4 linked regions of the Homo sapiens genome follow. The protein of the gene in region 4 interacts with the protein of the main gene of each other region in a pairwise test. Each region holds a gene or a part of one and is shown on either strand. Other genes may lie near its edges.

Region 1 (8,500 bases), on a different chromosome or scaffold from region 4:
AAGTGTCCATAATTTAGATTTTCCTTCTGAATGACCAAAAATGCCTAAGGGGAGGAATTTTGGTCACTAAAGAAGAAAATGGCCAAGCGCGGTGACTCACGCCTGTAATCCCAGCACTTTGGAAGGCCGAGGCAGGGGGATCACGAGGTCAGGAGTTCAAGATCAGCTTGGCCAAGATGGTGAAACCCCAACTCTACTAAAAATACAAAAAATTAGCAGGGCATGGTGGCAGGCGCCTCTAATCCCAGCTACTTAGAAGGCTGAGGCAGAGAACTGCCTGAACTGAGGAGGCAGAGGTTGCAGTGAGCCGAGATCATGCCACTGCACTCCAGCCTGGGCGACAGAGCGAGACTCTGTCTCAAAAAAAAAAAAAAAAAAAAAAAAAGAAGAAGAAGAAGAATGTTTAGATTTGTCAGTTGAACCAAGTTTCAGAATATGGCCAGTTTTAAAGATGACACTTTCTCCTTGACCAAATTTCGAATGAGAGAAAAGGCTGCAAACTGTAAAAAGACAAGCAAAACCTCAGACAGAAGTGAAAATCACAAATCTGCAGTCAACAGAATCTCTAGAGAATAAAAATGGAAACTCCTACCTTTCAGTGGAGCTTCAGTTCTAACCCTATCAAATTATTAGTGTGTAAGTCTCAATCTTCAACTAAGCTGGGAGGATTCAGATCCCAAGACTGGCCTTACCAGAGACCCCTGCCAGCCCCAGTGAGGTCGAGTAAACAACAGTCGTTTGTGCTGGTACCAAGGCTCCAACTATTGATGCCACTACTTAGTGGCAATCCCTGAAGGCCTGCTTCAGGTCCTATCTGGGTTGCCAAAATGTCAACCTCAAATAATGAAATTCAGGAAATATGATTAAGTATAGAGTTTATTTGAGCCCAAAGCTTGAGGATGGCTCCCTGGGCACATGCCCCTAGGTTGCCCTGAACATATGTTCCCATTAGCAGCAGTCACAGTGGGGTTTTAAGGAAAAGGAAGAGGCAGTCCCTAAGTTGTTAGCAAGAATTTGCATTAAAATAACAGAAGGTGCTGATTGGCTATGCATCGTTCTTAGCATCACTAATTCCATGTGAACAAGAAGATAATGGGTGAGGCAGCCTGTCAGGAGCAAAAATTCCATCAAACAATTGCCCTGGACAGTTGCTTCTATGGTGGAAGAGGCGCTGAATGAAGTCCCACACTCCTGCCTCTCTGGGCCTGATCATTCTGCACACCTCACAGAGCTCAGACTACCCTATTTTTCTTTTCTCAGGAAAAATGGGTGGATGGTACTGGTGGCCCTGCCTGGTCTGATCATCTACCCTGGTTCTAGTAACCAGATTAATTCCTTGTAATAGAGCTGTGGATTTCAGTTCAGTTCCCACGCACAGACCTTACCTCTGCTTTCTCCGACCACTTCTCCCCCACCCCAGGTACTTCACAGCTGAGAGCCTCTTGCCAGCTTCCAACTCTCCAGCAGTCTTTGTTCCCAGACCGTGTCCTGAGGCTGCACTTTCTGGACATGCCCACCTGCTGGACTGGCATCTGTCTTGTCACTTCTCTGGCCTCACCTCTGCGAAAGGAACACAAAAGTCAGGACCCCAGTTCACTCTGTCAAAAGGAAAAGAATGAGCTGAAAGCTGAGTCATGTAAGCAGCTGCCTTTCCTTTCGTTCCTAAGCAGACGGCTACAGATAGAAGGTTCAACATCCGCTTCTCTTATGTAAAGTGCTGATTTGCTGAGGAGTGAGCTGTACACAGTCGACTGTTCCCAACCTGCTTCTTTTCTCTTGCAACGTGTGGATTACCACACTGTTCCGCTTTCCCCTCCAGCCCACTTTTCCCCTTTAAATACTGAAGCCCTCAAAGTCATCTTTGGAGAAAGGCACAGACCACAGACTGTTTCTGTGATACCGTGTTTTTTTTCCTCCCAGGCATTGTCCTTAACCTTGGCAAAATAAACTTCTAAATTGATTGAGCCCTGTCTCAAGATACTTTTTGGTTTAAACCTCTGAGGCCCTACTGTTTCTAATACAGGTTTCCAGTTTGCTCATCTTTCCCAGGTAGGAAGATGCTCTGTTGCCAAGAGAAATGCAATTCTAACACGCAAATCCGCCCAAACACTAGAGCTCAGCATTCAGCTCTAGCCGAGCTAAGAGGATCCCATGGTCCTGCCCCACAGTCTGGGGCTCATCTTGTGGAGGAGGTAAGTAAAATAGGCCCTGTCTCTCTGACTTCTACCTAATCAGAGTTGATAGTTGCGTTGGAAATTAGGTAAATCGCAGGTGAGTTGATGAATGTGGGAAACCAGATGAAAATGGCTGCTTGATGGGGTTAAAACGCAGGAGAGGAATAGAACCCTTCCAACGGAATGGTTCCAGCCTTGTGACATGAGGAGACTGAAAGGGTATCCCAGAGGCAGGTCACTGGCCTTCCAGCTCCACCTGTGGGTGGCCTTGGCCAGGCAACTGCAAGAGTGCAGGGCCCCGGGGAGGTCGCACCTGGCAAGCGCTGAGGGAGGGTAAAGCGGAGAGGGGTGTGAGAAGAGAAAAACAACACAGAGCGTCCGAGCTATGTGAGGCGTGCGAGGTTAATCCGGCCCGGAGAGACAGGTCTATGCGGCTTCAGCGGTCCCCACCCATGCCTGGCAATTGTTTAAAGGCACTATTGCTCCGGACCCGCTGCCTTCACCCATGAACTTCCTTTCCTGGAATTATGATATAAAGAACAACGTACAGCCAATTAATAGCTTGTTATTTTCATGTAAATTCTTGGTGAGCTATTTAAGAACTGCCCCCCTCTTAAGCTTTATAAACCCACTTGTCACTGTTGCAAATCCTATGTTCAGGGCAACTTGAAGCTATGCTCCCGGGTTGCAATCTTCAAACTTGGCCCAAATAACCTCTCTACTTATATCAAGTTTGCCTCAGCTTTTTTTTTCTTCTAGGTCGACGGTTCCCGCCCCGCAAGGGTGCAGGGAAGGGGACGCCCGCACTTCCTAGTGCTCCCTTAGCTGGGGTCGAGCTGAGCGCCCCCCACCGAGCCCCAGGCGGCTCTGTGGAGAAGCCCCTCGGCCCCGGGTTCGGTCTGCACTGCCAGCCCCCAGTCCCCGGCGCGCAGGATCCAGCAGGGCCAGCGCCGGGCGGGCGAGAAGGCGAGAGAGCTAGGGCCGGGCGGGGAGGGCACCGGCAGGGGGCGCGGGTTCCCAGGACCGAAAAGGCGGAGCCTCCCACGCGCACTACGTGCTCCCTACGCGCATGCGTCCCGCCCACGCGCAGGCAGCACCTCGCCTGACTGGGTAGCGCTGCCACGTCGGGGCGGGGAAGAGCGTCGTCGCGTCCGGGTGACGTCTCCCGCGGGCGTCGGCAGGGTCGGCGGCGTCGGCAGCAGTGTCGACGGCAGCGGCGGCGGCGGGTGGGAAATGGCGGAGTATCTGGCCTCCATCTTCGGCACCGAGAAAGACAAGTGAGTGGGAGCCCCCCGCCGGGGGTTGGGCGCGATCGGGGCGCAGGGTGGTTGAGGCGGTGGGAGGGCGACCGGGGAGGCCCAGGCGGGCCGGCGCGGCGGTGGCGGGGGAGGGGCGCGCGGCGGGAAGGAGCGGTGGCCCTTCCGGCCCCTTGCGCGCCCTCCGGAGCCGCCGCCTCGTGGGCCGCGCGGCGGAAAAATGGAGCGGGGAGAATGAATGGGGTCTCTTTTCGGGGCGCCGCGGCCGAGCTTTCTCCGGCCTTGGGGTCCGAACTGGCTGATCGCCCGACGTCCGGGCCTCCGAGTCGCCGGCTCCCGGAAGCCGCCTCGAGCCGCGCTGAAAGTTGCCTGGAGCATCCGGGCCTTTTGGACGTGGACACGTTTGTTCCAACTTTCGGCTGTGAATGTCCTGTCGAGCAAGCTCTGGTACCAGCCTCGCCAGTATTCAGTCGCTTATCTAACTTAGGGTCCTAAGCGTTGGTGTTTTATCCACTTAGCCAGCCTCTTGCCTGTTTAAGCGACCGCTGGGCCGGCAGTAAGGAGATATGACGAGAAAAAGTATGGTGGAGACTACTGGATTAACTATCTAACCACAAGAGACGTGATCCGCTCTTAACATACAGGTGCTCCTGGATTTACCATGGGATTGCGTTCCGATAAACCCATCATGAATCGAAAATGCCTTTAATACCCCGATAAACCCATCATCTAAGTTGAAAATTTGTAAGTCGGTGACTGTTCTTGAAGACACAATTCTGATATAAGGAAAAAGATGTTTTGATTTTTTCCTTAAGGTTGCATGCCTTCCCTAATCAATCGTTAGGTTAAAAGCAAAACATTTAATTTCAGCTTTAATTGCCACCTTGGCACGTACTAATTTCCAGTGAGTTGGCTGTAGTTTAGACTAAATGGAATGTTTTCAGACGTTTGAAGGATAATTCTTACTTTGAAAACCTAAAGACTCAGCATCTGGCTTAATCTACTCTTTAGTTATCTTGGCATTCTTCAGTGCCATACAAAGTTAACATGACTTTATGTTTTCAATGATAAACCCCTAAGTTTGTCATAGATGTTTTTAATGCCACTTTTTTCAAACGCTATTTAAAATGTTTCTCTTTTCCAGGATGGAGTCTATCTTGTAAAATGTCCTCTTCACACATGGTAGAATCTCCTGTGTTGTTTGGATGAGGAGGCTATATTTCTAGCAAAATTTTAAGCCAAAATCTACCAGTTATAGTCACTCCAGAAACATTTAGTGGGGGTCAACTATAGGTCAGTTTCTGGAGACTTAAACATGGGTAAAATTTGGATATTATCCTTAAGGAACTCACGGTATGATCTTGGCGAATGAATAGACCAGCTCTATCGGAACAAGAGACTCTTCTGAGTTTAGGGTGAAGAACTAACACATGTAGGATCGGGGCATCATTAATTTCTCCTTTTCATATTTGCATGTGGCATGACTTCTGTCTTGTAAAAGTCTATCTCCCTATATTTCTGCTATAAGCAACCACATTTCAATCTATTGGGCTATACTATAAAGGTCATGGTTTTAATTCAGAAAAGTTGATTATTTAATCTAGGTTACTTGTGTTTTCTTTTCAGGGAGACGTGGGGTTTTAGCTTCCAGGGAACAGGATCAACTCCTGAAAAATGAAGCTGATGGTTCATATTAACTTTAATTATTATTTAAGCTAAGAATAAAATATAGATCTCTACCAATTAAAAAATGTTTAGCTTATTATATGTTTGAAGTTATAGATGTTTTCTAGATTCAGGGATATCCTAATAGCTTGTCTGTAGTTTAATTGTGTGGAATAATTGGATATTAATTGTTGAGGCCCAGGGCTTGCCCATTCTGAGGTAGTTTTTAAATAAGCTTTCTTTATTTTTAGATGACTTCCTAAAGATATGCTATTGTCTAATCAAGTTAAATAATCTCAAGACCTGTAAGTTTGCAAATATATATAATCACTTTCCTCTCCTGATAAATTTGGACTTTCCCATCTTTATTGCTACCTGATAATAAATCAGTGGCTAGTCAGTCTTCATGGTCCATCAGATTTCACTGAGGTTGAGGCCCTTCAATCTTAACTCTGGATTGACTGTTTAAAACATAATGGCACTTGGTTAAAAAAAAATTGAATTTTGAACAAAGTCTGTCTGGTAAGATGTCCTAATTCATCAGAGATCGGCTTCCCTCCCTGACATTGCTGGCACACAGGCATGATTGCTGGTTCCATTGGATATGGATCTGGATTGTCAGCGTATTTGAACAGTATTAAGGGAGGGTTTTGCAGTAGAGACAGAAGGTGACGTAAGGTGGTTCCTAAGGTGGGTTTGGTCAGTCCCCTAATAGTTTGTTTTCAGTGTATTGAGACCAGGAGAATTGATTTACTTCAGACCTATTTTTTGAAACTCCCTGTTGGTCTGGTGTCATGCGTTTAGAGAGACTCTGAACTTCGTTTTCTGTTTTCCTTAGATAATGATAGCACTTCATGAGCACCATATGTGAAGCACACATACGTTCTGTCTGACTCTCAGAACAGTGCCACATTGGCATTGTCATCATTTACAGATGACATCTGAGAGCTAGGGTGACTTGCCCAAGCCCAAGCAGCTGGTAGCAGAGTTGGGATCTTAACCCTCACCACACCGGTCTTTTCAAGAGAGAACTTGGTCGTGGAGAACTGGAGAACAGATACTGCCTAAGTTACATTTAGTTTTAGACTAATTTAATACTCCATTTAAGAAACAAACAGAACAGCTGTGCAGTTAGGAAAGTGGAGGGGATTTGAATGAGGAGGAGGCGGGTTAGAGTTAGAACCGTCTTTGCTGAACAAGTAGTGTGTTTGCAGAAAGGGAAGTTGAAGTTACGTTGTCCTAAAATACAGCAAGGAAGAGGAGGTGCTTAATACCACGGAAAAAAGTCTGTGTCATGTTTCTGTGAGGTTAAAAGTAATTTGATAGTGTATGTCATGCTGCTGACATATTCCATGTGTTTGATATCTTCCCAGCAAAATAATCAGCTCTCATTTTCCCTTACAGAGTCAACTGTTCATTTTATTTCAAAATTGGAGCATGTCGTCATGGAGACAGGTGCTCTCGGTTGCACAATAAACCGACGTTTAGCCAGGTTTGTTTGCCTTTTTTTCATGTAAATTATAAAAACTTCATGTTCTTTTCAAAGACAGTTAATTTCTACATATTAAGCAAGTCATTTTTTCTCTCGTAGTTGTATTTTCCATTTGTGTTCATAAGTGTGTTCTTTTATTTAAATAATAGTGAGGCAGGTGATCGACTTCCAGTGGAAGGTCTGAGACCACCACTCCTTGTTTTTATCATTAGAGAAACTTTAAAAATCAGTTTTTGATGTTTGTGTGTTGGCTGTGCCTGATATTTGCTGCCCTGCCATCTTCCCTACCCCCTCTGATAGACATGGGTCCAGAGGGGGTGGCCGTGCCAGCCTTGGGTTAGCCTCCTCCAGGCACCAGTGGACACGGAGTGGGCTTTCTGCTCTTTGCTGTCTCCAGACAGTAGAGGTGATGGAGCCATCTTCCAAGTTAGCGTGATTGTCACCAGGCCCATCATGCTGCTCGAGCTTCTCTGGCTGCGTCCTCACTTTCACATCCCTAGCTGAGGAAACAGCGAGTCGCATCACGTCATGGAAACATGAAAAATTAAGCTGAAAGGTAGAAAATGGGCCGTAAATTGCTCTTAGCGGGTCTGTTTGGTTAATTGAGGAGTGCCTGTTATCTTGGGCTTAGATCCGCTCTGAGTTCAGTTCAATCAAAAGTTGTGAGTTTTGATAGTTTTATTTTTGGTTAGTTGAAGAAAAGGCAAAGGTTGGTACACTATAAAGGATCACTTACGGATTAAAGGGAGAAGGCACCTCTAATCGGAGCAGAAAACTTGTGCCCACGTTGATGAGAACATTTGAAATTTGAAAATCGATGCCCAAGTCTTTCCAGATGGAGGGCTGGGGAACTCCTTCCAACCCACCCTTGAAGTCTAAATGTGCAGCCTCTGAGCTGTTGAGTAGCTATTATGCGTGGTCCCTGGGAGCTGCCAGGCTCTGCCTTTGAGCTCACATCTGTCTGTATACGTTTTCCTGTAAGCATTTAAGAAAATCTACCACTTTGTGTAAGTGAGCTGGGAGAAGGAAACATGGGTTTTTTCCGGTTGAAGCCCATGGACGACCCCACAGCACACAGTGTTTTTAGAAGGGAAGAGGATGATGGCTTTTCCCTCCATTATGCTAATTACCAAGTGGTTAGTATAATAGCAGTCTGTCTTTTGATAGCTCTGAACATGAGTTTCTTTTTACAAATTTCAAAATCTTGGAGAACTAGCTTTACATTTTCTGTGTATTGCAATTGTTTTTTCTTTAATGTTTTGATTTATGAACCGAATCTCCCCTAACTAAACCAGTGGCCATGGATTGTGGTATAACCAAGCATCTTAAGTGACCACCCAGTTCTTTGATTTTGGGGGGTGTCCCAAGTGTTGGGCTGAGAGAAATCAACTGTTCCCTATTCTAAAAGTTTTCTTTAATCTGGCTGGAGGCACTTTCTTTATGTTTTTCTGGATCATAGATTACCTGAGAATGTGAAATGTGAAGTTAATTTAGGCATTCCAGGTCAGTGCTGGGGAGAGCCCATTGGAGCTCGATGGGGTCAGTAGTATGTGTCAGCTTAAGCATCCTAGTTTGATGCGTGGGTTTGTTTTGGTTGGTTTTAGGCAATCCTAGCCACCCTTGGCTTTCCCATTAGACTGCATTGCCTCTTTACGTTAAGCTTCCTTCATTAAATAGCCACTGCCAGAATACCTGAGTGAGACCAACTGAATTTTACTGTTGAATAATTGGGCTCAGTTTAGCTTTTCATCAGGGTTGTCATGGTACGGTCATTTCAGTTCAAAGCTGAGTCAAGTCAGCTTTGGGAAGCCTCCCAGGCCTGAGTTCAGTTGACTCAGGGCTGTACTTGGCGGCTTATGGAAGAAACGGGGCCCTGATGCAGGTCTGAGTGGTTCAGTGTGGACAGTTTGTCA
Region 2 (7,725 bases), on a different chromosome or scaffold from region 4:
ATGCTCTAAATAATTTGCACATTTGTAAACAAATCTTAGATGACCAAAGATGCAGTGTATCTATCAGATATTGAATATCAAAACTTAAGGATGGGAACTGATAGCGAAATCCAATTACACTAAACATTCCTAAATTTTTGGAAAGAGAGAAAAAGATTAAAATAATTCACTTGAAATGAGGTAAGATGTATATGAAAAGGTTTTTAGTAGCATATATCACAATGTTGAGATGAGAATATTAAAAACATTCATGGAAAATTCACTTTGATGTTTTGCATAGTCTAGGTTATTTTTTAAAAAACAAAAAATTAAAAATTACCCAAATTCCTTATTAGAAAAAGAGACAATTACCTGGTTCTACTTAGGATCTGTGTATGTTCTAAGTCTTTCTCTCCTTTAGAAAAAAAGAGATAATCTGATTCTATTTTGGATCTGTGTACATTCTAAGTCTTTCTCTCATTTAGAGAAAAACATTCTCAAGTCTATAGAAGAGGAAAAAAAATTAAGATTAGGACCAACATTTCAAGCTGCCTTTTGGAAAGAAAATTAAAAACAGAGGTAGATGGTTAATTATTAGTGGCCAAGTTACTCAGGTGACTAATTTTTTCTTGGTACACATTCACCAAAATTTTATACTTGAAGCCAAATAGTAAATAACTTTAGGAGTAGAGAGTAATACCTAGCAGAAGTTATTTTCTTTATGTCAAAGAAAAGTAATAGAAGCAAACCAGGCTTACGACCCCTGTTAAGGAGATGATTGTTTAAAGCACTACAGTTCATGCACTTTTTAAAGCAGGAGAATGAACCTTGCCCCTAAGCTTCTTAGGTGTATCTGAGGCCAGCCACAAGCTCCATCAGGCCTGTTCAGTCCAAGTAGGACTGTAAGGTGCCTCGGCGCCGGACATCGCAGGTCCAGCAATGGAAGCCTCCTCCCAGGGAATTGGCATTACGAATGTTAACTTTAATGGTAGTGATACCTGCATTGAAAGAGAGATGAGGTCAGTTAGATGGACTAACATGACGATTCTCATAGAGAAAGTAGGCCTACAGACTTGGAGGAGTCCTGTGGTTCTAATCCTTAAGGATACCCAACCCAGAATAGTATTTTCTCTTCCAATTTTATTTTCACCAACTATATTTCATCTGCTAATATAAAATCTTCTCCAAAAAGTCAACAGAGAACTCTGAAGTTTTGTTCTATTGACTATTCACAAGTCAATAGACTGAGCAGATGTACCTACCAAATGTTCAAAATGGTCAAGTACTAAAATCTCAAGGCCTTTTAGAATTATACATTAACTACTTTGTCAGACTGTTTCTAATTTTACCATGTTAATTTAGTAGGCAAAGCAAAATTTAGCTGACCTAAAAAGCTGACTTTACATATTCACATATAAGGAGAGTTTATCTGATACAGATTAACTTCACCAGGCCACCATAAGGAAACAATGGAACAGAGCTGGTGTTTTAATATCTGGGTTTGTATGGTTATACAGGTACCAAAGCAAATCCAACAATCAGTTTAATCTGGTACCATCTGTAATGACAAGGCTATGATGTGCATGGCCTATTTAACCAATGGTATTTAGGAAGAATCTGTTGTGTTAGATATAGTGGGGTTTTAAAAAGAAAATCTATTATTCTTCCTCAAGGAGCTAATTATTTTGAGAGGAGGATAGGCTACAAAGTCACTAAAGGGTCCATTGGTATAGCCAGGGAGAGGAAGGTGGCATGAGCCATTCAGAAAGACTTTCCTAGTCGCGCATGGTAGCTCACACCCATAATCCCAATGCTATGGGAGGCATAGGTGGATGGATCACTTGAGGTCAGGAGTTCGAGACCAGCCTGGCCAAGCCCCTCTCTACTAAAAATACAAAATTAGCCAGGCATGGTGGTGTATGCTTGTAATCCCAGCTACTCAGGAGGCTGCGGCAGGAGAATCGCTTGAACCCAGAAAGTGTAGGTTGCAGTGAGCCGAGGTCACGCCACTACACTACAGCCTGGGCGACACAGCTCTGTCTCAAAATACACACACACACCCCTTTATAATAGCTCATATGAAAATCCTTTCCCTTCAACATTTTTCTCAATAATACTAGAATCATTGGTCTAAATTTTGAATATCAGGATAAGTAAACTACTTAAGTAAAACCTGGTCCTGCTCTTCAGTTCAAAACTGAATGATTTACTGACACACTTTCTTGCATTTCGCTACTTTGTTAACTATGCTTATCACACATAAAAGTCACTTCTGCATCCGTACCCTTTTGAGTCCTTTGAAATATGTGATGACAGGACACTTTTAAAGGACCCACAATGATTTCTTATTTGAAGAAGGGCTGAACAAGCTATCTGCTCACCTGCAAAGGGGTGGTTTTCTGCACATGGGCACCAAAACGTTGGCTAAGTCATATAAGATTTATAAACTTATTGTTAAGGGGATGTCTCAGGAGCTCAGGATGCATCTCCAACTTGTTGGGGCTACGTGTGTTGAAAATAAAAATACTGACTTTCTGTGAAATAATAACTTGGTGCCTCTAAAAGGAATCAAAATTGAATTAGACAAACCATTTATCAAACCTAGCATGTCATTTCTTTAGTTCTTCTCATTTAACGTTTTCATGTATGACAACATGTTTCATTTGTTGTACATACCCAGCTTTTCAAACATCTTTTGAATTGGAACTTCATTGGCATCCACCATAACACGTTTTTCATCTAGCATTAAGACATTCATGGAAAGCCATTTGGATGACATCCAGAGTGGATGATCTAAAAACAGCAACAACTGTTAAACCATGTCCGCTATCATTTTTGTTTAAAGCAAGGATTTACAAGTGAAGAATATTAAAGTGACAGCTCAGTTCTTTCAGTAGTTCACTTTCCATGTGAACATTTATTTTAATCTTAAAACAATTTATCTATAAATGGTATGAATCAATCTGTACTCATTATACATTTGAATTTCACCCTGTTTTCTTTTAAAAGTCATATCTTGGCTGGGCATGGTATAATCCTAGCACTTTGGGAGGCTGAGGCAGGAGGATTCCTTGAGCCTAGGAGTTTGAGACTATTGCCCAGAGATGGTGCCTCACTGGGGAACACAGCAAGACATCATCTCTACAAATAAAAAAAAATAACTTGCTGGGCATAGTGGCCTGCATTTGTAGTCCCAGCTACTTAGGAAGCTGGAGTGGAAAGATCACTTGAGCCCAGGAGTCTTGAGGCTGCAGTGAGCTGTGACTGCACAACTGCACTCAAGCCTGGGTGACAAAGCAAGACACTGTCTCAAAAAAAAAAAAAAAGTCATATCTTGCTTTACGTGATGTTGTTTTATTCTGTCTTCTCCTTACTTCATTTTCTATGGATGAAAAAGTTGCAAACACAAGTCCCAGCCTTGTTCTGATGCTCACAGTCCCAAGCACCACTTCACACCTTACTGAGGAAACACATTCTCTAAGCTGCTAACATTTGGGCTGCTCTCTATAGGAGAAAGATCCTTGGTCACTAAAGTAATTATTTTAGTCTAACAGTGTATGAAAGTAAACATACCGTCTGGGATGATTGGTGTTGGAGGAGTAATGATAGTCCATCCTGCTTTCTTGAAAAGATCAATCTGTAAGACCAAAAAAAACCCCCAAAACCGTTAAATCTACATATACTATTATTATTATTAGTCTCTAATAGCCCTTATCAGTAATAATTCTCTTTGAGAAGCTGTCTTCTCAGCTTCCAAAAGAAAGAAATTAAAATTTCTAAACATTTGGGTGATTTTGTCTGAATCCTAATTAAAAATGTACATAAAATCCCCAGATTAAAGTTAAAAAGTAACAGAAATGTTACAGCTTTTAAAGATAGTCTTAACTTTTCTCAGGTTTCAGAGACTTAAAAAACCAAAGATACTGTCCTTAAGAAATTCTCATTTTAAAAATTGAAAAATTTCCTATTTAGTTACAAGAAAACAAAAATGTGACTACATCAAACCCACAGTCCTTCTACTTCTTGCCCATCATTTTGTATCTAGGACCATGGTATAAAGACAGTTGTTAGCTATGCATTCTCAAAGAACCATATTGTCCTTAGTGACCTTTTACAACTTAGCCGTCCCTGTGTTCACATACCCACTTACTATACGAATAAATGATAATAAAATGAAATGAATAAGTAGTCATGGTCATCGGGTTTAAAAATAAAAAACAGAAATGAACAGTGACACAGTATAACAGTGGTTTTTAAAAGTTGTACTGCAGCCTTGCAAGTAACAGAAAATCACTCATCACCTAACTGGAAGTAGGAGGCTATGGACAGAAAGTAGGAGGCTGCAGGTGAAGGGGATAGACCAGCTGCAGTGCAGTGGCTTCACTTTTCCCTACAGAGCAGGGTTGGCCAAAGGGAGGCTACCCCACTGTAGAGGGAATACAACCACTGCCCAGTGGCATTGCCCTGGCCATGCAAGGATGATCTTGTCCAAAATTCGCTGCTGTGGAACCACTGTTGCAAGTTATAACACCATCGTTTGATAAAAATACACACATATGCACAAACTTGAGGCTCTGACAACAGCAAGTGGCCAAAGTCTGATGATCCCATACTAATTATTGTGTCAACTATGTATATTTCTGCATGGTGGACATCTTGTAATAAGCCATAAGGAATCCAATGTTTGATCATAATAATGTTGAGTACTGCTGAATCTGTCATTTAGAACCATTAGGAACCATGGAAGTGCTTAAAATAAAAGTGGCAATTATTTTAGTTACTAGATTCTGTTGCTTTTCCAGAGTCCCAAGAAATCTCTTACCTGGTGACATGGTCGGTCAGGGTTGGAAAGCACAATACCAGGTCCAATGATGTTGAAGGTAGCATCAATATGCATGGGATTGGGATCTTTAAAGGAGATGATATGCACTCTGTAGTCTGGAGCAAGATGCCTACGCATCCATTCAATGCCTAGGTAGTTTGTAACCTGAAAACAAAAGAAAGACATACGATCGATAAATATTTGGTTCTATGTCTAGAAAACTAAAAATATTCAAGGTGAAAAAAATTTAGGATGAAAATATTTTAATTTGGAAGTAAAGAATACAATAATATAGTGTGAAATTTCAGAGGCAGCCTGCGTTCACCTGGCTTCTCTGTGCAAAAATATCTCTTCCAGCTCGAATGAAGTCAGCAGCATCAAAGCATGGCTCAAACTCAGTTGTCACAAATTTTCCCTGAGCAGCCAATTTGTGTCTGTCTTCTACAGAGTGGATGGGATAATCCTAATTGGAACAAGAATGAACACACACAATGCACTGGATCATGAGAAAATTATTCATAAGGCATACAGTACTAAGAAAATTAGTTTAACATCATTTCCCAAAATATTACTACTCAGTTCTAGACTAAAACATGCCTGGGAAAGAAGCGGGTCCATGATAAATAAACCAAAACAACAATAAAACAAGAAACTAGCATTATAGTAATTTCCTGATACAACAGTCCTCCTTTACCCATGATTTCACTTTCCATGGTTTCAGTTACCTTCAGTCAACTGTCGTCCCAAAACATTAAGATATTTTGAGAGAAACAGAGAGACCACATTCACCTAACTTTTAGTAAAGTATATTTATATAATTGTTCCATTTTATTATTCATTATTGTTGTTAGGCTCTTACTGTGCCTAATTTGTAAATTAAACTTTATCATAGGTATGTATATATGTACAGGAAAAAACAAAATATATAGAGTTCAGTATCAGCATCCACTGAGAGTCTGGAACATATCCCCTGAGGATGAAGGGGCACTATGTACTTAGAAAAAAATGGTACACACCAGGTGAGATGGCTCATGCCTGTAATCCCAGCACTTTGGGAGGCCAAGGCAGGTGGATCACCTGAGGTCAGGAGTTCGAGACCAGCCTGGCCAACATGGTGAAACCCCGTTTCTACTAAAAATACAAAAATTCGTCAGGCATGGTGGCATGCACCTGTAATCCCAGCTACCCAGGAGGCTGAGGCAGGAGAATTGCTGGAACCCGGGAGGCAGAGGCTGCAGTGAGCCGAGATCACGCCACTGCACTCCAGTCTGGGTGACAGAGCAAGACTCCATCTCAAAAAAAAAAAAAAAGTGATACAGAGGCAGTAACTGATTCTGAGAATATTCCATGAACCGTACGGAAAGTAAACAGGATGAAGTCATTCTGTTCTTTTAGAAAAGGAATTTGGTCCCGAGCTTAACTCATACCATAAAACGAGATGCCATGTTTCCCCTGCCAAATTTGATTGGGAGTGGCAAAACTAATTCATTATTTATTTCTGTCTTTAAACCCAGAAGCTATTTTGATTTTTAAATTTTTTTCTATAAAAGATCAAATGGTAACTGATTTAATAAGGGACATACATTTCATTTTACTGTGAATTTGAACTGTAGATCAGGTTCTTTTTCTAGAAGAAGAAAGTGAACTTCAGTCTAGTGACTTTTCTGGTTCCACTAATGAACAGTGGTACACCTGTAGGCAAGTTTTTCCCCATCTAATGGAATGATACTACAGTATGATTAGGGTTGTTGTGAAAAACAAACAGGATTGAGGATGTAAATAAAGGGTTTAACCCAGGACCCAGAACAAGGTAAGCACCAAAAAGTGTTAGCCATTATTATTATTATCATAGGATCATTTACTCTTATCATATTCATCATAAAATAATCACTTTTTAAAAATAAGATGATGTTTTCGGTTTCTAAAATGCATAATATATACAAGGTATCAGAGAATCTCTATCTTACTCTTTGTGGATCATTTAGAAAAGTTAGTAATAAGCTAGCCTATAATTAGGGACTCACCTGGTTATAAAGCTCATCAGCCATTGTGGGCTTAGGAGCTGTTGTCCACTTGGCGCCACGGTGGAAGTAGTCTTTGATAATTGACCTGTACGCTCGGTACTCAAAGAAGCGTGAACGCCATGCCATGGGAGCCTCGATAATCTCATTGCCCACAACTATCAGGATGTCTCGAGGCATTGCACTGTATAAACCTGTCAGACCAAAAAATTCCATGACAACTTCAGTAGTGTTAATTTCCAAGACAAAAAAGGTCTATATAGGGCCAGGCACAGTGGCTCATGCCTGTAATCCCACCACTTTGGGAGGCCAAGACGGGCGGATCACTTGATCCTCTTCAAGAGCAGCCTGGCCAACATGGTCAAGCCCCATCTCTACTAAAAGAATACGAAAACAATTAGCCAGGCATGGTGGCACGTGCCTGTAATCCTAGCTACTCGGGAGACTGAGGCAGGAGAATCACTTGAACCAAGAGGCAAAGGCTGCAGTGAGCCGAGATTGTGCCACCACACTCCAGCCTGGGCGACAGAGTGAGACTCTGTCTCAAACAAACAAACAAAAAATGTCTATATAATATTACCTCTTTTTTTGGTTAAAAAAATTGCTAGAAATACATGTGTGTATATATATATGAAAATAGCAAAAAATTCGAATAACACATACTAGATTGTTAACATGAATTGTGTGGTGGGGGGGAAGCCCAGAAAAAAAAGAAAAGAAAAAAAAGTGAAGGAATAAAGTCCTTGTACAAAGAGATCTTGAACCACCAAGCTTTCACCATTTGTAAGCTCCTTTCTTGCTATACAGAAACACAGCTCTTAAAGGACTATCGGTATCACAAGATAAAAATTGAGCCAAGGATCAATCTAAAACTAGAAATTAGAACAGTGACCTAAGGCACAA
Region 3 (7,725 bases), on a different chromosome or scaffold from region 4:
AGTTCCAGTGACCTGGAGACCTCCACCTAGGCGCACCTGTGCAGCCGTACACCCTGGCTCCACAGGTGCGCATGGACGTGCTGGCTGTGCACAGCGGTGAGGAGGCCGTGAGTGGTGTGCAGAGCCGTGTGTGTGGACAGCAGGACATGGCGGGTGAGCCAGTCCCTTTCTCACAAAGGAGCTACGATCCAAGACCCCAGTTGTGCGCATGCGGAAGCAGGAACCACCTCCCTCCCCGCGACGCCCGCTCGGGCGAAGGGACGGAGTCAGCTCGGACTCCGCCAGTGCAGAAGGCAAGCCGCAACCTGCCAGGGAGCATGGGCTGCTGGGCCTCAAAGGCTGTCGGGGGGTTGGCAGGGGGTGGGCTCCGTCAGTTTCACAGCTGCACCAGCCTGCAAACCCATCCTTTCCCTCTCACTCCCTCCACCCGTCTGTCTGTCCTTCTGTCCATTAAGTAAAATGCCTCCCCAGGAGACACAGGGATGCTGGCCATGCCAAGGCTGGCTGGCCAGCGTCCCAAGGGCTGGGGACTCAGTAGGAGCCGTGCCCACCCCACCCTGGCCCCGGCTCCTTTGCATGGGTCTCAGGTCTCGCCCTCCCGGCCCAGCCCCTGGGCTTTCACCCCAGCATGATGCCCACTTATACGTAGGCATCTCCCCCAGCAATGCTCCACAGAGCCCCTGGGCCCCCCAAAACCCCAGGAAGAGGTTGGATGCCCCAGGAAGGGAGCTGTTACCACCTAAGCTTCACAGGCCTTCAGAGATTAGAAGTTGAGGTCCAGAGAGGCTGACAACCTGCCTTGGAGCAGCTCCTCACCTGTGCTGCCCCCAGCCCTGTCCATGCCACCTGGGCTCCTTAATGGGAACCCGCTTCTCTTAATGTCTAGGGGAATTCGTCTGAAAACTATCTCAGGTCGCAGGTCCCCCCAGTCCTACAGACATCCACCCAGTGCCAAGGCTGTGAAATAAGCTCAGTCCTGCAGGGCACTGTCCACTAAGTCCTCGAGCTGCTGAGAACTCATGAACCAATGAACTCATGAACCAATCTGCAGGTCACACGGAAGCTGCCACGAGCTTCCTCAATTCCGTGACGCCGCTGTCCCCCAGCCCCCAAAACTGCTTCTTGTCCACTAGGGTCAAAAAAGCAACTATACAAAATAGAAAGGGTCGAAAAACAAAACACAGAGGAAAGAAATTCACCAAAATGCCAAGGAGAGCGCTCGGCCGATCCATCAGACCAGAGCTAATGCTGCTTTCTCCCTTCTCAGTGTTATTTATTTTCCTGTGGAACAAGTATTACATTTATGATGGAAAAAATAACTACTGATTCTAATTTGTTCTTAAAACCCCAGATGAGTAGTCACACGTGGGCTGCTGTTTATTTCCCTGCCTGAACATTTCTGAGGGAGCAGGGAGGGGCAAACAGCGAGTTTGGACCTCGGTGTCAGGTAGTAATTCCATGTTTCTTTCAGCTTCTTGGAATCGATCTTGATTCCCTCTAAAACAATAGAAGTCGCGAGCAACATATTCTGCCAACAAACCGCAGCCACCATTTTTGTTTTTCACTATAGATCAAAGGTCACTGAAAATCAGAACCAAATGGGCTGAACTTTAATTAGCGACAGGTCGGGAAGGGCTGAGCCGCACCCAGGCTGGGAGCTTTCCTGGAGGAACTCCAGGTCTGCCCCTGGCTGAGAACACAAAGCCATCCAGAAAGACGCAGGGGAACGTGCCCTGGGAAGCCTCCTGCCTGGGCAGCCCATGGACTCCCCCGCAGCTCCCAGATCCCTGCCCCAAGACTCTCCGGGCTACCCCAAGGGCCCTCGTCTGGCCCAGGAAAGCAAATGCCGGTGGAAAGCAAAGGCTCTGGGTTTTCTGAAATGCCTTCCCAAGTCTTGACAAAGCCCTTTAGTAACCTCAGTTACTTTAGAACCCAAATGCCTACCTGTGGGGCCCGTGGCTTTCCACAGGGGAACTTCCTCCAACCTGCAGCAGGTGGCTCCTGCCAGCCACAGCTTGGCGGGGACCAGCCCCTGGCTCACACACTCACCTCCACAGGAGCCAGACCCTGGGCACCTTCCTCCAGCCCTAAAGGCCCCATCCTGCACCCACCCCTAAAGGTACCCAAAAGCCACGTCGATCCCACCCACAGTCACCTCTGGACCCATTCCTTAGGGCCTAGAGGCCCCACTGGACCCCAAATTCCGTAAGTCATGCAGCCGATTCAGAACAGCGGCTGCCCCCAAAGCACCAGGCCTGCATGAGCCCCTTGCCAGGCACTCGGAATTGGCCTCCCAACTGCTGCCATCTCCCAGGGTCCCGGAAGAATCTAGATCGCAGGTCTGGGTAGCTGAGGCAGCTCCTAGCCACCTCCCACAGCCCTGCAGTGCTGGACCTGCCACCCCCACCTGGTGGTGTCACCCCTACTAGCTAGCACAGCAGCACTCCAATGCATTGTACTAACGGAACAGACCACCTTCTTTATTCACCAATATTTTACACTAAACATCAGCATATAGAACAAAGAGACACTGCTCAGTTTAAGGAGGCTGTAGGCCTCTACACCCCCACAAATCAACCATTCCTCTGCACCAATCCTGACCACAGTCACCTCTGAGAACCTCCAGGGAACCCTAGGGTTCCATGGGGGCATAGTTTGAGAAACACCAGTGTAGGCCTCAAACTGGGCCTAGCCCAAGGCCTTGAGCGACAGCAGGACTGAACAGACTGGGCTCACAAACACCTTCTGGGCACCAAGAAGGGCCCCCCGCCCCCTCGCCCTCCTACCTGGAAGCCGCGATCTCAGCCTTCTGCTTGGCGATGGTGGCGGCCCGCTCAGCGGCCTCAACGGCGCGGTCCACCTTCTCGCGGATCTTGCTGGCCCGCAGGGGGATGAGGTTCTTGCGCTTGCCGCCGACGAGGATGTTCTGCTTGTACTTGCCCTCCTCCTTGGTGCCGTCCGGGAAGGTCATGCAGCCGTAGCCATGGCGCCGGTTGCTGGCCCACTCGCCCTCGTACTTGAGCCCGTCCGAGCGCTGGCTCACGCCGAAGCCGGAGCGTTTGTCGTTCTTCCACTCGCCCACGTAGGTCTCGGTGGTGGTGGCGTCGATGTCGTCCTCGATGACCGCCAGCTCGGCCTCAGCCTCGCCCAGGCTGATGGTGGAGTGGATGTCGCTGGCCGTGGAGCTGACGGTGCTCATGCCCGCCTCGCTGCGAAAGGAGCTCTGCTTGCTGCGTTGGCTGGCCAGGCTGCTCTTGGACTCCGACTTGCGCAGCTTCAGCCCACTCAGCAGCGAGCGCCGAAACAGCCCCTTCTTCTTGCTCTTGAGGATCTCGGAGTCACTGTGGGCCACGAGCACGAAGCCCCCGCGGGACACGGCCGGGCTGCCGGCCACCGCCGGAGAGGCGTCGGGATGCAGCGCCGTGCCGTTGGTGTGCTCGCTGCGCAGGGAGTTGATGGACGTCCTCAGGGGTGAGCGGATGACCGCGGCCATGCCATACGGGACGCTCTGCCGGACGCCGTAGCCCTGGCGCATGCCACCGACCCACTGGCCCTGGTAGGTCCCTGGGGAGAAAATGAGAGAGGGGTGAGTGCCCAGCGACAGAGGAGGGGGCACAGCCTGGCCACGGACAGGGTTGAAGCAGCCACAGTCCTGTCTGAGCTTCCTGTTGTTTTGTGTTTTTTGAGACAGGTTCTCGCTGTGTTGCCCAGGCTGGAGTGCAGTGAGACCATCACAGCTCACGACAGCCAGGAACCCCTGGGCTCAGGCGATCCTCCTGCCTCAGCCTCCTGCGCAGCTGGGACTACAGGCGTGCACCACCATGCTCCACTACTTTGTAAATTATTTGTAGAGATGGCAGTCTCATTATGTTGGCCAGGCTGGTTTCTAACTCATGGGCTCAAGTGATCCTGCCTCAGCCTCCAGAAGTGCTGTGATTACAGTCATGAGCCACACCACTCCTGGTGTGCTATCTTGATGAAACCTGGTGAGGTTTGCGTGGAGGCAGACAGACCATGGTACCTTCCTACAACTTCTATCACCAGTGGCTGTTTTTGAAGACACCTCCATCCTGCTTCTCATGGCTAGATCTTGTTCTCTCTTGGAAATCGGGGAGGGAGAAGGGAGGCATCAGAGTCTGTGGTGCAGAGTGAGGACCACAGAACCCAGAGTGAATACGGAGCCCCTGCCAAGGGCACAAGGAAACGCGTCCTGGGTTAGGAGGCTAATGAGTGGCAGCTACAGGGACACAGGTGTGGGCTACACACTAAGCCCTGAATGGGCTGCTCTGGGAGACAGTGAGCTCCCCATTGCTGGAGGTATCCAGGAAGACCACACAGTGGACACACCATGGAAGAGATTCAAGGGCATAGGGAAGGGACAGTGGCCCATGACCTTCAGACATAAAATCAGCAGACCTGATATCCCCAGAAGAAGGGAGGGTGGGGACTGCAGCAGCTGCCTGTGCACCTGGGTTCTCAGCAGCACTGTTTCCATGGCTGGAAAGGGAAAGGCAACCCACAAGTCCATCACCTGGTAAATGGACAGACGCCATGCGGTCCGTCCATACGATGGAACATCATTCAGCCTTGAAAAGGTAGAACATTCTCACACAGGCTGCAATGTGGATGAACGCTGAAGACATTACACAGAGTGAACTGAGCTGGGCACAAAAGGCCACATATCGGATGATTCCATGTACACGGGGTCCTTAGAGTAGTCACGCTCAGAGATGCAGAAAGCGCGGTGGGTGCAGGGGCTGGGGAGGGTTGTGGGGTCAGTGTTGAATAGGGACAGAGTTTTGCAGTAGGATGATGGGAAAGCCTTGGAGGTAAACAGTGATGACAGCTACCTAACACCGTGAAGGTAATTAATACCACTGAATTGTATACTTAAAAGTAGCTAACGTGGTACATTCTGTATTTCTCTTACCACAATAAAATAAAAAGGAAACCCGGTCAGCAGACCTGGGCCCATGTCTTGCTCTGTGAGCTGTGACTCAGGGAAGTTTCTGGGCCCCGCTGGCCCTCAGTGTCCTCGTCTGTAGAGTGGAACCAGGACTCCTCATGCCAAAGGTCACCGTGAGGACGGCTGGGCCTCAGCACGACGCCCAACGCGGCAAACCTCAAGCCTCATTTGTCATTTGAGCTTCTCCCTGCAGCCGGGCACTAACGGCGTGGATGTGCCACCCTGGAAAGGGCTTTTGCGGGGAGAACAGAGTCCGTCCACCACTCTTCCAACTCACGGTGGCACAGGCTGCAGACCAGAGGCCTGGAGGCCGAGACTTACTGATACGTAGGTTTTATTCGTCCCACCGCTGTTTTCATAAAACATTGGAATTACCTGCTAACAACTCAAAACCAAGAGATTTGACATAAAAATTCAGCTCTCTTCTGTCTCCTGAAAAATGAGGACCTGGCCACCCCGACCTCTCTTTTCAGAGGACAAAATGGACAGGAGCTGGCAGCAGCTGCTCCTGTTCTGCCAGTCACTTTTTAAACGGAGAGGCTGCAGCGGGTGGCAGGTGCCGCCATCTCTCGGAGCGAAGCAGCCCTCCACTCCCCACTGCCCCCCCCCTTTCCCTAGCCAGGCCCCCTCCACTCACACGCCCCACACCAGAGGGTGGGATCCAAACTAAGTGTGGAATTCAAAGTCCTGTAGCCTCAAGTGACCTGTCCGTCCCCAGGGTATCCCCACACCCCGCCACCTTCACCCGCCACCCCCCAAAGGGTCCTGATCCTTCCAGGCTTTTCTGTCCAAGGCTCTGTTCACGCTCTCTCCTCTCTCACACTCCCACCCTCCAATCGAATCCCATGGGCTCCAAGCCAGCCCCACCCCTCCTCCACAGCACCTCCAAGCACCCCAGGGCCCGGGCCCAGAGCCCCCATGCCCGGCACCCGCGGCATCCAGACTCAGGACAGTGGCTGGGGTCTTAGATGTTCCAGAATGTATCTTCCAGCTCAACCACATCACGAGCCCCCAGAGGGACTTGTGTTGCAGGCCCCTCACGCCCCATGTGGCATATGGCCCAGCCAGGGCAGAGAAGGGGCGTGCAAAGATCACCAATCAGGCTGCAGCCCCGGACAGAGCCCCTGAGGCTGCCTCACTCCAAGAGATGGTGGCACCTGCCACACGCTGCAGCCTCTCCGTTGAAAAAGGAATCGGCAACGCAGCCTCTGAGGGCAGCTTCTCCAGGAGCAGAGCCTGAGCTGGGGATCCTGTGAACGTGACTTATTTGGGGCTGGAGAAGGGGGGTACCAGGAAGAAGGACGTGGCAGCAGAGGACGGGGCCGAATGAGGTGGTCTCAGCGAGAGGTCAGCTTCAGCCTCGTCCCACTTTCAGGCAAGGGGATAGGATGTTTGGGATCCCACACTGGTCGGTCATTCTGTACCCCCAAAGCTGCTTGGGGAGGCAGCTAACCTGGAGGCAAGTCCACTGCCATCAACGTCGGAAACAACCTCACTGCCATCAACATCAGAAGCAACCTCACTGCCATCAACATCAAAAGCAACCTCCGACTCCAGTGATGGGGCTCCTGCCCTCCCACCCACTAGGCTGTGGCACCTTCTCCTACAGGATGCCAAGAGCCGGGCAAGCAGGGATGTATGTGGACCGGACCCCAGGGACCCCACAACACCACTGCACACCTTTCCAGAGTGTCAGCCTCAGCCTCTTGCCCAGAGGTCCCAGCACTGGGGGCAGTTGTGATGGGCACGGGGAGGAGGCAGAGGGGGCAGCTGACTCGGAACCACCCGGCACCCCAATGCGAACCACACTGGGGGGAAACCCTGTGGCTTGCTCCACACCCGAACGCCCTTCCAGGCTGGGGTTGTGAGGAGGAAACTGGAACTAGGCTCGGTGGGTCTCAGGGGGTGGCCCTTTACCAAGGCCAGACCCGCCCACACAGTGGCCTTCCCATGGCCAGTCCAAGCTGGACACAGGCTGCCATCACAGGGACCCTCACCCCAAGACTGCACCCTCAGCGACTGCCCCTTCCGTGCCAGGGCTGTGGACAGGGTTGTCACATCAAACACAGGACGCCTGGTAACATCTGAGTTTCAGATGAACAACACATCGTTCTTTAGGGGACACGCTGCATGGGACATACTTATATTTAAAAAGCGTTTGTTGGCTGGGTGGGGTGGCTCATGCTTGTAATCCCAGCACTTTGGGAGGCCGAGGCGAGCAGATCACCTGAAGTCAGGAGTTAGAGACCACGCTGGCCAACATAGTGAAATCCTGTCTCTACTAAAAATACAAAAAAACTAGCTAGGCATGGTGATGGGTGCCTGTAATCCCAGGTACTCAAGAGGCTGAGGCAGGAGGATCACTTGAACCTGGGAGGTGGAGGTTACAGTGAGCACAGATCATGCCACTGCACTCCAGCCTGGGCGACAGAGCAAGACTCTGTCTCTAAACAAATACATAAATAAAAATAAAAAGCATTTGTCGATTACCTGGCATGCACAGGTAACCGGACAACCCTTTTTTTTTTGAGATGGAGTCTTGCTCTGTCGCCAGGCTAGAGTGCAGTAGCGCGATCTCAGCTCACTGTAACCTTTGCCTCCCAGGTTCAATCGATTCTCCTGCCTCAGCCTCCTGAGTAGCTGGGACTACAGGCATGCACCACCACACCCAGCTAATTTTTTTCTGTTTTTAGTAGAGACAGGGTTTCACCATGTTGGCCAGGATGGTCTCAATCTCTGGACCTCATGATCCGCCCACC
Region 4 (7,725 bases):
AAAAAGAAATGAAAGCCATCCAAATTGGAAAGGAAGAAATAAAATTATCTGTTAAACTCTTAGAAGAAAACATATGCAAAAATCTTTATATGGACATTGGATTTGACAATGACTACTCAGATATGACACCAACAGCACAGGCAACAAAAGAATAAAATAAATGAACTTCATCAAAAATTAAAAATTTTTGTGCGTCATAGGACACTACGAAGACAGTGAAAAGACAGCCTGCAGAAAAGGACAAAACAGTTGCGTATCACATAACTGATAAGAGTATTAATATCTAGAATATATAAATTCCTACAACTGAGTAACAAAAAGCAAATCAAAACCACAATGAGCAATCATCTGATGCCTTGTATTAGTCCGTTTTCATGCTGCTGATAAAGACATATCAGAGAACTGGGCAATTTACAAAAGAAAGAAGTTTAATGGACTCATATTTCCACGTGGCTGAGGAGGCCTCAAAATCATGACAGAAGGTGAAAGGCATGTCTCACATGGTGGCAGACAAGAGAAGAGAACTTGTGCAGAGAAACTCCCCTTTATAAAACCATCAGATCTCATGAGACTTATTCACTATCACTAGAATAGCATGGGAAAGACCCAACCCCGTGATTCAATTACCTCCCACCAGGTCCCTCCCATAGCATGTGGAAATTATGGGAGCTACAATTCAAGATGAGATTTGGGACACAGCCAAACGATGTAACACCTATTAGGACAGCTATAAGGAAAGAAAGGGGAAGGGGAAGGGGAAGAAAGGCAAGGGAAGAGGAAGCGGAATGGGAAGGGAAGGGGAAGGGAAGGGGAAGGGGAAGGGGACGGGGAAGGGAAGGGGAAGGGGAGAAAGGGGAAGGGAGGGGAGGGGAAGGCAGGGGAGGGGAAGGCAGGGGAGGGGAGGGGAGGGGAGGGGAGAGGAGAGGAGAGGAGAGGACAGGAAACGAAAAATGCCAAGTGTTGGCAAGAATGTGGAGAAACTGAAACCCTTGTGCATTATTATTGGGAATGTAAAATGGTGCAGCTGCTCTAGAAAACAGTTTGGCAGTTCCTCAAAAAGCTAAGCATAGAATTACCATATAATGAAGCAATTATAATCTAGACATATATACAAAAACATGGAAAGCAAGTACTCAAAGATAGTTATACACCAATGTTTACAGAAGCATTATTCACAATACCCAAAAGGTAGAAACATAAATGTCCATCAACAGTTGAATAAACAAAAAGTAGTATATACATACAAGGGAATTTATTTGTTTGTTTATTTATTTATTTATTTTGAGACGAAGTCTCGCTCTATCACCCAGGCTGGAGTGCAGTGGCGTGATCTCAGCTCACTGCAAGCTCCGCCTCCCGGGTTCATGCCATTCTCCTGCCTCAACCTCCCAAGCAGCTGGGACTACACATACAAGGGAATATTATTCAGCCATAAAAAGGAATGAAGTACTAATGCATGCTACAACATAGATTAACCATGAAAACATTATGCTAAGTGAAAGAAGACACTCACAAAAACCACAGACGATTCTATTCACATGAAATGTCCTGGACAGGGAAATCTATGCAGACAGAAAGTAGAGTTCCTTAGGGTTGGGAAAGCAGGGGGAGCAATGGGATGGCAGGGAGTGGGGGTATGATAGCTAAAGGGTGCAGGGTCTCTTTTTGTTCTAAAATTGACTATGGTGGCGGTTGCACATAGCTGTGAATATATTAATTGAACACTATATACAATGTATGTGTGTGTGTTTATTCATTTCTGCAGTTATAACAAAATACTTGAGACTGGATAACTTATAAAGAACAAAATCTATTTCTCACAGTTCTAGAAGCTGGGAAGTTCAAGATCAAGATGCCAGCACTTGGTGTCTGGTGAGGGCCTTCTTGCTGTGCCCTCACATGGCAGAATGCAGAAGTGCAAAAAGGGGATCCTAGCTAGTTCTCTCCAGCCCTTTGATGGGGGCAAGAATCCATTCATGGGACTGGAGCCCTCATGACCTTATCACTTCCCAAAAGCCATACCTCTTAATAGAGTTGCGTTGGGGAAGTGATAAGGCCATAAGGAGACACAAACATTCAAACCATGGCATTCCACCCCAAGTCCCCCAAATTTATGTCTTTCTCACATACAAAATACATTCATTCCATCCCAATAGCCCCAATGTCTTATCTCAGGCCAGGATCAATTCAAAAGTCTGAAGTCTAAAATTTCATCTAAATCAGACATGTGAGACTCAAAGATGTGTTTCAACCTGAGGCAAAGTACTTCAGACTTCAGCAGTGGCTCACTCCTGTAATCTCAGCACTGTCGGAGGTTGAGGCGGCCGGACTTCTTGAGCCCAGGAGGTCGAGACCAGCCTGGGCAACATGGCAAAACCCCATCTCTAATACCAAAAACAAAACAAAACAAAAAAAAAAACTAGCTGGGCGTGATGGCACACGCCTGTAGTCCCAGCTACTCAGCAGGCTGAAGTGGGAAGATAGCTTGAGCCCAGGAGGCAGAGGTTGCAGTGAGCCGAGATCACACCACTGTACTCCAGCCTGAATGACACAGTGAGATCCTGTCTCCAAAAAAAAAAAACAAAAAAAAACAGTGGAACAGACAAAGAACAGACATTCCCATTACAAAAGGGAGAAATAGGAAAGAAAAAAGAGGTAACATTTCCCAACCAAATCCAAAACCAAACAGGACAAACATTAAATCAATGGTAAGGCTGGAGAATAAATCTTTGGTTCCATGTCCTGCCTTCCAGACACAATGGGGCAGGAGTTGGGTTCCCAAGGACCTGGGCAGCCCTGCAGCCAACTGCTGGGCACAGCCCTCATAGCAGCTCTCACAGGTTGCAGTTGGGTACCTGCAGCTCTCCCAGGCTGGCACTACACACGGGTAACTCTACAGTTACAGGCTCTCGAGGGCAGCCCCACCCCCACAGCTCCATTAGGCATTGTCCTTGTGGGAGCTCGCTAGTGTGCCCCCAGCCTCAAGACTCTGCTGGACATTGCCCTAGTGGGGGCTCTTTTTGGCACTCCTGCCCCATGGCTCTATTAGGCATTATCCTAGCAGGGAGTCTCTGCAGCAGACCTATCCTGCAGCAATTCTCTGTCTGAGCCCAAGACTCTCTGAGGCATCCTTTCAAATCTAGGTGAAGGTAGCCATGCATCCACAGCTCTTGCACTCTGCATACTTGCAGACTTAGCGCCATGTGGATGCCACCTAGGCTTATGCCCTGTGCCTTCCACAGCAATGGAACTAGCTGCACTTGAGCCCCCTTGAGCTACAGCTGGGATATCCAAGGAGGGCTGCACTGTAATGCAGAGAGCAGAGAAGTGATGCCAGGCAGTGAATGCTGAGGTCCTGCAGACGCCCAAGGCCTCTCCTTTGACATAAGTTCTGTTCCCTGGGCCTTGGTACTCTGGGCCTCTGATGGGAGGGGCAGCACTGATAATCTCTGAAATGCCTTCAGGATCATTCTTCCATTATCTTGATGAATAGCATCTGGCTTCCTTCTATCCATACTAATCTCCTTATCAAAAGGTCACTTGGCCACACCCTTAGTGTTTTCTCCCAAACATGTTTTTACAACCTGGGCAAGCTAAAAATTTTCCATATCCTTAAATTCTGCTTCCTTTTCTTTTTTGGAAACAGGGTCTCATTCTGTCACGCAGGCTAGAGCGCAGCAGCAGAATCATGGCTCACTGTAGCCTTGACCTCCCAGACTCAAGTGATCTTCCCACTTCAGTCCCCTTGAGTAGCTGGGGCTAAGTGCACACCACCACACTCCGCTAATTTTTTTTTTTTTTTACTTTTAGTAGAGATAAGGTCTCATTATATTGCCCAGGCTGGTCTTGAACTCCTGAGCTTAAGCAATCCTCTCACCTTGGCCTCTCAAAGTGCTGGGATTACAGGCATGAGCCATAGTGCCCAGCCTCTGCTTCCCTTTGGATTATAAATTCCATTTTCAATTCATTTCTCTCACATTTTACTGTAAGCAATTAAGAGAAGTCATGCAGCATACTGAATACTATGCTCACGGATTTCTTCCACCAAATATCCTAGGTTGTCACTCTTAAATTCTGCCTTCCCCAAAGCCCTAGAGTATGGGCACAATTCAGCCAAGTTCTTTGCGCCTTTGTAGCAAGGACTGTCTTTCCTCCAGTTTCCAATAAGATATTCATTTCCATATACGACCACAGCAGAACGGGCTTTACTGTCTATAATACTACCAGCATTCTGATCACAGCCACTTAGAAGTTTCTAAGAAGACACTGGTTATCTCTACGGCTCTCCTCTTCTTCTGGGCCCTCACCAGAATCATTCTTAATGCTCTGTTCACAGAAATTTAGGCTTTTTCTAGCAAACACTTCCAAACTGTTCCATCCTCTACCCATTACCCAATTCCACTTTTCTTTTAAGTATTTGCTATAACAACACCCACTCTCAGTATCAATTTCTGTCTGTGCTGCTATAACAAAATCCACAGGTTAGGTAATTTATAAATAATAGAAATTTACTTCTCATGGTTCTGGAAGAGAGGAAGTCCAAGATCAAGGCACTGGGGTTCAGTGTCTGGTGAGGGCCTCTCTCTGCTTCCAAGATGGTGCCTTGTTGCCACACCCTCCAGAGGGGAACAAATGCTGTATCCTCATATGGTGGAAGAGCAGAAGAGAGCAAACCCATTCCCCCTCAGGCCCTTTTAAAAGGGCCCTAATCCCATCTATGTCCACTCTTATGACTTAAACACCTCCTAAAGGCCCCACCTCTTAATAACATCACGTTGGCCATTAGGTTTCAACACATGAATTTTGGGTGATACATTCAGACCACAGCAATCTGTATACACACACACACACACACACACACACACACCATTGCACATATCTGTAAATATACTAATTATAATTGAATTATATACTTCAAATTTAAATGAGTAAATTGTATGGTATGTGAATTATACCTCAATACAGCTTTTTTTTTTAAGAGAGGACTGTATGAAAAAACTAGCCCATAAAGATACATGCACACCTATGTTTATTGCAGCACTACTTACAAAAGCAAAGACATGGAACCAACCCAAATGCCCATTAATGATAGACTGGATAAAGAAAATGTGGTACATATACACCGTGGAATACTATGCAGCCACAAAAAGGAATGAGATCATGTCCTTTGCAGGGACATGGATGAAGCTGGAAGCCATCATCCTCAACAAACTAACACAGGAACAGAAAACCAAACACTGCATGTTCTCACTCATAAGTGGGAGCTAAACAATGAGAGCACATGGACACAGGGAGGGGAATAACACACACCAGGGCCTGTCAGGGAGGGGAGAGGGACTGAGGGGAGGGAAAACATCAGGACAAATAGTTAATGCTTGGGGGGCTTAAAATCTAGATGACAGGTTGATAGATGTAGCAAACCACCATGGTACACGTATACCTATGTAGCAAACCTGCACGTTCTACACATGTATCCCGGAACTAAAGAAAGAAAAAACTAGCCTAATGAAATAATCAGCACAAGAGGGGTTCTAACTCCACCCCGACCCCCCAAAATTTGGAACCACCATAGTCTAGCCATCTTCCTCTTAAAGTGTCATAATACATTGTGGCACACAAAATTTTCTGAAATGTTGTGCCATAAAGAAACCAACTTTATCTAATCCAAAGTTTCCTCACTTATTTGGCAATAAATTATTAGCTCCTGTAGTATCTAAAACCTTCAGGAAGCATTAAGTTGCCCAACATCACCACCAGCCTAGGAAGACTGTTAATGAAAGATGACAAAGGAATGGGTCCAAAGTCCCATGGAGCCCATCAATGCATTTACTGATCAACTAGGGCAGGCACAAATACAAACATTCAAAAATGTCTTTGCTATCCAAGGAAGAACTTTGGTGGTAGAATTTTTCAAAAGGTGGCATTAAGTAGAGGTGATCCACACAGTGGAGCCTTATACACAGAACAGACTCACAGTGCAAGCAAGACAAAAGCTGCTTTAATACCACCTACCCTGACAGGGAAATAATGGGACAACCCAACCCTACCTCCAAGGGTAGGGTCGGGCTAACGCTGACAGAAACAGGCAAGGGCCCCAGCCAGAAGCCCCACTGGGACATCTTTATTGCTTCTTTCTATGGCTTGGAGGCCTTCCAGGTTCCAGGCTGTGATGCTGAGACATGAAGGCACTGAGCAAGGACCTTGGAAGAAGTGGGGTGTTAGCATGCACAAGCTCAAAGCAGATACAATTCCTACATTCTTAAAAGAAGGCAGGTGGGGCTTCCAAATCCGCTCAAGATTCAAAAGGTTTCAAACCTTTCTAAAAGTGTTCTATCATCATAAACAAAAGAGAAACCACTAAATAAAATCCACAGGAATCCAAACAAATGTCAAAGCAGGACACTGTACAAATATTTGCCCCTGGAATAAAGTATGGACACATTTAAGAATGTCATTTACAACAATGTAGGGCTAATCACTAGAAAATTCTTGGTACAAAAATTCTTAGATTAAGTAATAGCATTATTAATAATAGTTCTTACCAGGTAAAGTGTCCTCTTCAGAGAATTTCTAGAGAAAAAGACACTAAAGTGAACACAGGGGGAAATGCATTAAGACCTTACTGCACAAAGTGTGGGCCACTGACCAACTGCAAGCATAACACCTGGGAGCTGGTCAGAAACCCAAAACCTCAGGTCCCAACCAAGACCAACTAAATTAGAAGCTGCATTTTATTATCAGCCCCAGGAGATTCCCATGCATATTAAAGTTTAAGTTGTGGTATTTTCAGACATTGTTAATATTTAACTTGTATCAGAACTGAAACGTGCCAGCTCCCTTTAAGAAAATAAATAAGCAAAATATATTAACATCACTATTTTATTGTTCAGTCAACACAGGCCATCCCTCTACTCACCCTCCCTTCCTACACAGATTTCATTATTTTCCATCTAAGTAAGGCAGGAACAGATGACGGAGACAGACTGGCTCCTCAAACACCTGTTGAGTGAATGACAGGCGGGGTCCCTTGTCAAAAGCCACCCAGAGCACTCCTTGCCATTCTCATCCCACTTGAGTGCTGAACAACTGCTCAGAATTACACAGCCATTGTTGGCAACGGCACATCACCAGTCTCAAGCCACCAGGACTACCTTGACAACACTCAGAAGCTGGCTCCCAGACACTGCACAGGAAAGGAAAAAAATTATTTGTAGGTGACTTACAGGTACCATTTACACATTTAGAATTTTCTTCCCTCACTAATATGAGATTTGAGCCTGAGGCATCTAGAGTTCAGCCCAGACTCTTCCAGCTGCCTTCAGGCAAGTCTCCACAGACCAGAAATGCCCCTGGAGAGATAGTCCTGGACCCCCTGACCGAGGAGGCAGAGAAAAAAAGGGAAGAAAGAAGCAAACGGGGCCAATAAATGCCTACTGGCCCCCCAATCCTAGTCACAGCTCAGCATTTTCTGGCCCCTTTAATTTAACCTCTGCCGGCCGTGAGAGGAACAAAGCCCATTCCACATGAAAACAGAAGAAATGTGTCTCCTGAACAAATCAGAATAAACCGTCATGGAAAGGGTTCCAGGGTTTGGGATGGGTTAGGACTTTGTGGATCATGCCCAGCCAGTGAATTCTGTGAAATATGAGAAAATATGGTCCATCACACCAGTTCTGCACGTGATGCATGGCCATGCCCACTACCAGATGTGCCAAGTTATTTAAT

The links.
Region 1: the proteins of GRB10 (region 4) and alpha-crystallin A2 chain interact in binary tests that used the Homo sapiens proteins (3 or more experiments, as listed by UniProt).
Region 2: the proteins of GRB10 (region 4) and GATM interact in binary tests that used the Homo sapiens proteins (3 or more experiments, as listed by UniProt).
Region 3: the proteins of GRB10 (region 4) and JPH3 interact in binary tests that used the Homo sapiens proteins (3 or more experiments, as listed by UniProt).

Annotation. Positions count from the first base shown.
Region 1 is NC_000021.9:6,494,080-6,502,579, reverse strand, and holds the start of alpha-crystallin A2 chain, read right to left. Parts: upstream 3,378-8,500; 5' UTR 2,807-3,377; intron 1,561-2,806; 5' UTR 1,386-1,560; intron 1-1,385. Other genes in the region: splicing factor U2AF 35 kDa subunit-like protein, read left to right, coding at 3,408-3,451, 6,500-6,587. UniProt on the Homo sapiens protein: Contributes to the transparency and refractive index of the lens. In its oxidized form (absence of intramolecular disulfide bond), acts as a chaperone, preventing aggregation of various proteins under a wide range of stress conditions.
Region 2 is NC_000015.10:45,361,245-45,368,969, forward strand, and holds part of GATM (glycine amidinotransferase, mitochondrial isoform 1 precursor), read right to left. Parts: intron 7,017-7,725; coding exon 6,826-7,016; intron 5,265-6,825; coding exon 5,127-5,264; intron 4,967-5,126; coding exon 4,802-4,966; intron 3,617-4,801; coding exon 3,553-3,616; intron 2,773-3,552; coding exon 2,656-2,772; intron 978-2,655; coding exon 865-977; 3' UTR 1-864. UniProt on the Homo sapiens protein: Transamidinase that catalyzes the transfer of the amidino group of L-arginine onto the amino moiety of acceptor metabolites such as glycine, beta-alanine, gamma-aminobutyric acid (GABA) and taurine yielding the corresponding guanidine derivatives.
Region 3 is NC_000016.10:87,640,097-87,647,821, reverse strand, and holds part of JPH3 (junctophilin-3), read right to left. Parts: intron 3,565-7,725; coding exon 2,787-3,564; intron 1-2,786. UniProt on the Homo sapiens protein: Junctophilins contribute to the formation of junctional membrane complexes (JMCs) which link the plasma membrane with the endoplasmic or sarcoplasmic reticulum in excitable cells.
Region 4 is NC_000007.14:50,772,593-50,780,317, forward strand, and holds part of GRB10 (growth factor receptor-bound protein 10), read right to left. Parts: intron 2,569-7,725; exon of another isoform or gene 1-2,568.